2 linked regions of the Homo sapiens genome follow. The protein of the gene in region 1 interacts with the protein of each later gene in a pairwise test. Each region holds a gene or a part of one and is shown on either strand. Other genes may lie near its edges.

Region 1 (4,242 bases):
TGAGAGACTTTGTCTCCAAAAATAAATGAATAAATAAATATATCATTTAAAAATACATAAATAAACGTGAAAGGATAGACTTTTTGGTAAGTTCTGCCAAGTCTAATTCCGGTTCTTCCATTACAAGGAAGAGCAGAAATTAGGGAGACAGACAGGAGATGCCTCCTCCTCTCCAGCACCTAGACGCCCCCCAAAAATATTCCAAGTCTACACCCCTCTATTTGCAAGTCTGGCCTCATTCCTTCCAGTTGCAAAAGGATGAATCTTTAAAAGATTAGAAAGTCCTTGGCCTGAGTCTGGCTCTCTGCCTCCTCACGGTGCCCCTCATCCTTCCTCTGCAGGCTTAATAAGAGTGTGGTTAGGACCCCTGGAGACCCCTTTGCCCAAACTTCCCTTACCTTGTTTCTCCCCTCACGTGCCCCTCGTTGGTATCCAGTGCCCATTTATCTCTATTAGGAAGTCATTCTGCAAGTCTAACTTAAGTTATTCTTGATGAAAGGAACCTTTTTCCTTCTTGAGAGCAAGCAGGACCCAGGGAGCCCCTGCCCTCACCCAGGATTCCTGCCTCTCTTCTCTGCCACACCCCTGATCTTTACCTGGTATCCCCATCATTCCTATTAGAAAGTAATCAAGTCTGGCTTCAGTCTTTCTTGCCTTGAAGGAAGTGTATTCCTGGCAGGGGCTGGGGGTGGGGGGATAAGTCATAAGACAAGGGTTGGGGGATCAGAAGAAGCCCTAATCCACTCTTCAGAGGGACCCAGGAACCCCCAGCACTAGAGAAGTTTATATTTAGCGCTTCTCTGCTCCTCCTCCTCCCCCCGCCTGCCACCGCCTCCTCCCTGATGCTGGGACAAGCTTTGCCTAGAGACTGGGGGGTGGGGGGACAGGCCTCTCCACTATCAGCTCGTGCCGGGAGGACAGAGGGCTGAGGGGGAGGAGGGGACAGAGGGACCGAGGAGAGGGAGACTGAAGGGCAGAGATGGGGAAGGTGAAGGGTGAAAAGGGGAGAGACCGAGGGCAGAGGGGGAGAGGACACAGCTACCCACAGCTACCCCAACCTCATGCCTCGCATTCTCCTTGTCAGGATGGAAGGCGCCTTCCAAGCCGAGCCAGCTTGGGGTGGGGGGAGCTAGCGAAGGCCCCCACAATCCGTCTCTAACTTTGGGAGGGGGTGGGGCCTCCCACAGCTGTTTCTGTTTCCAGAAAAGAATGTGCAGGGGGGTCCCACTCCTGAGAGGGGGAGGGGCCGGGCGTGCAGCCCCGGGAGCCTGGCTTCAGTCTTCCTCCCCACTCCCCATCTGGGGAGGGGGCGGTCGAGGTCAGCGGCGGGGAGAGCCCCCTCCACTGCCACCTCGGCTCAGGTTTCCCGAAACGGGAAGCTCTGGCCACACACAGGCTTGGGGATGGGGATCTGCCGTGGAGCCAGGGTGTGCGGGCTGGGGGGAGGGGAAGACAGACTGAGCCTGGGACGTCGGGCAAGAAGAAGAGAGCGAGGTGCAGACAGGCAGGAAGGGAAGGCCAAGGAGACAGATGCAGAGGGACACAGAGATCACAGAGACAGAGAGACAGGATGAAGAAAGAGAAGCAGACACAGAAAGTCACAGGGATGTGGCAGGACGGAGAGAGTGACAGAACCCAGGACGAGATCGGGAGACTCAAGGAATGACATAGAAAGGGGAGAGGCATGGGGCGTCCTCAAGTCATTCCGGAGACCTCTGCCCATCTTCCACCATGAGAACACCCAGAGTCCAGAAGTCTCCCCCAGGCGCTGCCTCGACCTGCCTCCCCTTGGGTCAAGGAGAGCTGGGGCCAGGTAGGAAGCAGGGGAAGTGTCACCAAAGGGTCAAGATCCCAGTGGGGGGTCCTCAGGGACTGTGAGCTTCCTCTCAGCAGTGGTCCCTCCCTCTGGAGGCCCTGAGATTCCCCTCCTCCCACCCCGCCCCCTCCAGAGATCTCCAAGCACACCAGGACTTAGGGAAGATGGAGCCCTGGTGGCGGGGCCCAGAGAAGGGCATGTTTGGAGCCTGGCTGTGTCACCTTGGGTGAGTCGCTTGCTCTCTCTGAGCCTCAATTTGTTTCTCTGTTAAATGGGGACTATCACCCCGTTTCCCAAGCCGCAAGAAGACAACGCCTGCAAAGTACCCGGTCTCGGGTTTGACACATACTTGGCGCCCACAAGGATTTTCTTTGGGGAAGGGGTGTAAGAGACAGGGCCTGTGTTTCTCACGAGGCCCCAGTGGGGGCGATGCAGTTCCCCCTCCCCCGATTTGGGGGCGGGGAGGCCAGGTCCGGCCCGCCGCCGGAACTCCGGGGTCGCCAGCCCCACCCCCTGTCCTTTCTCACTCCCTGCCTACCCGGGTCCCCAACCCCCGCCCGGTGTCTGAGCATCCAACCGAGACAGACAGACACAGACGGGGGTGGAGGGACGGACGGACAGGCAGCCCCTTACCAGCTGCTCCTCCAGGGCCGCTGCGGCCCGGCGCGCCGCCGCCGCATCTTCATCCTCATCGGCGTCCTCCTCGTCCTCGGCCTCGGCGCCCCCCATTCCGGGCTGGGCCAGCCGCAGCGCCTGCTGCACGCGGTACTCCTGCCTCTCCCGGAGCCAATGTAACTCGCAGAGCCCGGCCAGGCTACCCTCCAGCCAGCCCCGCAGCCGGCCCCGCTCAGGGCTCACCGGGAACGAGAAGGCCCGGATCATGGCTGCGGCCCCCCGCCCCAGCCCGGCCGGGCCCCGCGGCCACCCCTCTCCCGGTCCCACCTCCCCGCCCCAGCAGCCTGCCCGCCCGCCCGCTGGCCGGGCTGTCACCGTCTCATCTGCATAGGCGCCCGCCCATTGGGCCGCCCACCCGCGCCTTATCTGCATGGCCACGCCCCCGGCGACCGAGCAACAGCCGCCTATTGGCGAATAAGCTTCCTGACGAAGACTCTCGGGCGTGCAACCGCACCGCCCAACACGACGCATGCTCGCAACTGCCTACTCACTCCGCTCGCCACGCCCCCTCCGTGCAACTGCCTCGGGGCCCTGGCCACGCCCCCCCACGCGTCACAATGAAACAAGCCCGCCCTTGCTTCAATGCCATTGGTCTGTGCCTGGCCGGTCCTGCAGCAGGTTCCACCCTCTTGCGGGCGAGCGCTGGCTACCATTGGACTGTCCGGCGCGAGGGGAAGGGTGATCTATAAATAGGGAATGGGTACACGTGACAGTTTGGCAGCTGCTCCTACCCCTCCACCCCGCCCAACCTTCAGCTTCTGAGGCTGCGCAGGGGGAGAAAAGGGTTAGGGGGTCGAGCCCTGACTTCGCCTCCTCTTCCAAGAAGCCTTCCCAGACACTCAGCTGTAAAACCAGACGGACGTCCTCCGATGAAATTGTTTCTACTTAGGGCCGGCTTCACCGGCTTGGAATCCACTTAGAAGGGTCTTCGCGCTTGGTTGAATGTTCTGCAATTTCTGTCTTGAAATTTTTAGTTTTTGAGCAAGGGGCCCCTTATTTTCACTTTGCACTAGGCCAAATATGTAGCCGGTCTTGCTGCTAAGAGTCTAAGATCGATTGCATTCCAAATTCTGGAATTATAAGACCCTGGGTGGAAGATTCTATGCTTTGACCAGAAGAGAGTCTAAGCAGCTTTTGTCTCCCAGGTGCTAGGAGGATGTGTGCTCATCATTCTTCCATTCCAGGGGCCTTTGTTCTACGTTCTAAGGGGCTTTGTTCTCAGCCTTCTATGATGCTCTATTCTCAACGTTCTCTGGTCCTAGGAGTCTGAGCCTGACATTCGTTTCCAAGGCTTCCTGCTGTCTCTCCAGGCTCCGCAAGCAGGGCTGGGGCACCCTCAGGCGGCCAATCTGTATCACTACGCCGAGCCTGCCTCTACCAACTTCCAAGACCTAGCTCTAATATTCATACTCATCTCTCAGACAGACCTTGGCTCCCTAAAAGCCAAGGCCCAGAAGATCATACAAGAAATTCCCTCTTTTATGATTCCCCGTGCACGAAGTGACCTTCTGGTGGTGAGATGGAGAGAAATTGATAGTGGCGATAGACAGCAAAGTCTCCAGGAGCCAGACTTCCTCGGGGTGAGTCACAGATCTGTCACTTTCCAGCTGTGTGACCTTGGAAAACTTACTTAACCTCTCTGTGCCACCGTTTCTTCATCTGATCACGGGATCATAATACTGGCTGCCTCATACAGTTGTTCTGAGGATTCAATGAAATGTATTAGGTACTTGGAGCAGTGTCTTCCATGG
Region 2 (3,811 bases), on another chromosome or scaffold:
GCATGTGAATAGAATCATAATATGTGGCCTTTAGTGTCTTTCACTTAACATAATGCTTTCAGGGTTTATTCATATTATACCATGTATCAATATTTCATTCCTTTTATGGCAGAATATTATTTTGTTATATGGCTATGCCACATTTTGTTTATCCAATCTTCAACTGATGGGCATTTGGGTTGTTTCTACTTTTTGGCCATAATAAATAATGTTGTGGATACTCATTTACAAGTTTTTGTATGGTATATATGCTTTCAATTTTCTTGGATGTATACCTAGATGTGTAATTGCTGGGTTATATGGTAATTCTGTTTACTTTCTGAGGAACTGCTTGACTGTTTTCCATAGCTGCTGCACTGTTTTACATTCCTTCTAGCAATGTAGGGTTCCATTTTCTAGGGTAACCCTTCTACATTGCTAGAAGGGTTACATTCCTTCTAGCAATGTAGGGTTATAGCAATGTAGCAATGAGGGTTCCATTTTCTCCACATCCTTGCCAACACTTGTTAATGTTTGTCTTTTTGATGATAGCCATCCTAGTGGCTGTGAAGTGATATCGCATTGTGATTTTCATTTGTATTTCATCTTATCATGTTTTTATTGGCCATTTGTATATAATTTTCTCATTTAATGTTTTAAATGATGCTGTAAGGTAGGTTTATTCCTATTTTACTGCCAGGAAACTAAAGTGCAAAGTTGTTTAATCATTTGCTTGTTTTTTTAACCTTACAGTTAATAAGAGGCAAGGTCTGAGTGTAAACTCAGGTCTTCTGACTCTACTTCCTGCACTCAATGAGGCATACAGAAATTAAATTGTGTTTGTGAATGTCTGGTTGATTAGTGACAAAGTGAGGGAAAAATAAAAAAAATCAAACCAAACAATAACAAACCATAAGGTGTTGTGGCAACACTGCCACATATTCATCAGATTTTATTACGCATTTTCAAATAAATTCCTTTTCTTCTGTCATAATAAGGTAGGTCTGCTTTCCACATTTCCAATGGGGAAACAGAGTCAGAGTGATTCAACCTAGTAACAGCTTCTTAATAGCATAGCCGATCCTAGAACCCACTGTTTCAGAATTTGAATAGTATGTATGTGTATATATATAGAGAGAGTAAAAGCTGAAAATCTCCCTTCACTTTTTGTCTTTTTCCCCTTCTTCACTCCTAAGACCACTTCCATCTTGGAGAAACTGCTGTTGACAGTTTGAGGTTTATATTTCCAAACCTGTATCTTTGCATTTATGTGTGTATTTATCTATAAATACACATTTCCATATTTTACCATACATACAGACATGTTTCTTTTCATAATGTTTTTTCTTTTACAAATGGGATTATACTACACATATTCCTTTGTTTTTCACTTAAATATGTTAAACTTTTCCATCTGTAATTACAAAGGATAAATCTAATATTATGTTTTCATTTAAGTTTGCTATCCATGCCTGGCTTCGGTGTCAAGATGAAGTCAGGATTAAGAATGATTAGGAAACTTTTCACTTTTTTCTGTGCTCTGGAACAGTTTAAAATATCTGCCCTTTAAACGTTTACTAGAAATCATCTGACAACTGTGGGGGCAGAGAGAGATCTGAGATGACCTTTCTAATTTTTTTTTTTCTTTTGAGACAGGGTCTCACTCTGTGGCCCAGGCTGAAGTGCAGTGGTGTGATCACACCTCACTGCAACCTCAACTGCCTGGGCTCAAGTCATTCACCCACCTCAGCCTCCCAGGTGGCTGAGAGTACAGGCATGTGCCACCATGCCCAGCTAATTTTTGCATTTTTTGTAGAGATGAAGTTTCTCAATGTTGCCAAGGCTGGTCTCAAACTCCTGAGCTCAAGCAATCTGCCTACGTTGGCCTTCTTAACATGAGCCATTGCACCTGGCCCGTTTTCTTATTTGTCAAATGACAATAACTCCTACCTCATAAGAGTCTTGAAATATTAAATGATATGTGAGCTAATATATGAAAAGGCTCAGTAGTTGCATCTAACAAAAATGAAAAAAATGTAATGAACTGTAACATGCTATACAAATGTAAATTTGTTACTACAGTTATTATAATTATGTTTTAACCTAATAGGAACAAATTTTTAAGTAGATAGGATGGTGGAGCTAGGGACAGTTTCCACTAATAAATCACAAGTATCTATAAAAATTCACAGGCCATTTGGGATTTGATTCTGGTAGACAATGGTATCTAAATACACTCTTTAAGAAGGATGGTAGGTAAAATCATTGACTAAACAGATCTGGATGAATCTTGTGTTGTCACTTGTTAGCCTTGTGACTGTGGACAAGTTAATTTCTTAGTAACATGAGATAACACTTATAGGGCAGTTATGAAGAAAGACATTAGTTTCTAGCATGTAATAGATGTTCAAAATAGTCAATTTTTTTTTTCTTTGCATGTAGTGAATACCCAACAGTGACAAACCTGAGATGTTGAGTTCTATTAATTTAAGGCTGCTTGGTGAGGTGGAAAGAACATTAAGCCCTAAGTCAGAAGTTTTGTTCTGTCCTATGTTTATTAGCCATTGGCTGTGGATGAGTCGCCTAAGTGCTTAGATCCTTCTGTTTTCCTTACCTATAAAAAAGCTAGAGAACTAAGGCTGGGTGCGGTGGCTCACACCTGTAATCCCAGCACTTTGAGAGGCTGAGGCAGGTGGATCACGAGGTCAGGAGTTCAAGACCAGCCTGGCCAAGATGGTGAAACCCCGTCTCTACTAAAAATACAAAAATTAGTCGGGTGTCGTGGGGGCACCTGTAATCCCAGCTACTCAGGAGGCTGAGGCAGAGAATTGCTTGAACCCGGGAGGTGGAGGTTGCAGTGAGCCGAGATCGCGCCACTGCACTCCAGCCTGGGCGACAGAGTGAGACTCTGTCTCAAAAACAAACAAACAAAAAGCTAGAGAACTAACACTAGGCACTTTACAACCTTATCTCATTTAATCTTTCCAATAATCCTATCAGATAGAGATGATTTCCATTTCCCTTTCTAATAGATAAAGAAACAAAGGTGCAGGAATTGGATTTTCCAAGGTCTACTTGGTGGACTCCCCCAGTCCTGGGAATATTCTTTGGCTCATTACAAGTATTCACTCCTGGGATGATAGGGCATGCCCCTATGTACAGGGAATACCAAGGGGGGAACCTACTATAAACTGAAATACTAAGTGTATGAATGAACTAAGCCAGTGTTGGATGAGACTACTTATTTATTAATGACTTCCATTAATAAAATACAAATAGAGGATTGTTAATGTGTCCCAATGCCAGTGCTTAAGAGTAGTAATTTAAGATGATACTTCATTTTCCCATAATCACCTTATCTAAATAATTTATTACCTACTCCTAATTTCATTTTCAGTTTGACCAGGTAAAGCACAGAAGTAAATTGTAAGTTAGTGGTCAGAGCTGGTTTGATAGTGGTGTGTGTGTGTGTGCATGCATGCACGTGCGTGTGCATGTGTGTGTGAGAGCTGAGAAGTACAGTTCTTCAGCAGCTTGGCATATGCAGAAACTGCACATTCTTGGAAAGAAGTAATCTGCGTTATAATTTAATTGCCTTCTAGTAGATTTGCAGAATCATTTAGAAAATGAACCTGCCTTTGTCAATTGGTTTGTAAAGACCTATTGATTATATTCTTGAAAGATAGTAATATTGTCTTTCCTTTAGTGGGTATTGCCAGAGCTTTTGCTTATGAGTTTCATTTTATTTGATCAGGTTCAGTGATATTGATTTGGTATCCTTGCATGCTTTGTGCTAGGGATGTATGAAACAAAATGCTTTTGAGAGGTCATG

The links.
Region 2: the proteins of DACT3 (region 1) and SESTD1 interact in a two-hybrid assay, tested with the Homo sapiens proteins (one large-scale study listed by BioGRID).

Annotation. Positions count from the first base shown.
Region 1 is NC_000019.10:46,658,367-46,662,608, forward strand, and holds the start of DACT3 (dapper homolog 3), read right to left. Parts: upstream 2,817-4,242; 5' UTR 2,699-2,816; coding exon 2,450-2,698; intron 2,043-2,449; exon of another isoform or gene 1,998-2,042; intron 1,315-1,997; exon of another isoform or gene 597-1,314; intron 585-596; exon of another isoform or gene 444-584; coding exon of another isoform or gene 399-443; intron 1-398. UniProt on the Homo sapiens protein: May be involved in regulation of intracellular signaling pathways during development. Specifically thought to play a role in canonical and/or non-canonical Wnt signaling pathways through interaction with DSH (Dishevelled) family proteins.
Region 2 is NC_000002.12:179,258,333-179,262,143, reverse strand, and holds part of SESTD1 (SEC14 domain and spectrin repeat-containing protein 1), read left to right. Parts: intron 1-3,811. UniProt on the Homo sapiens protein: May act as the primary docking protein directing membrane turnover and assembly of the transient receptor potential channels TRPC4 and TRPC5.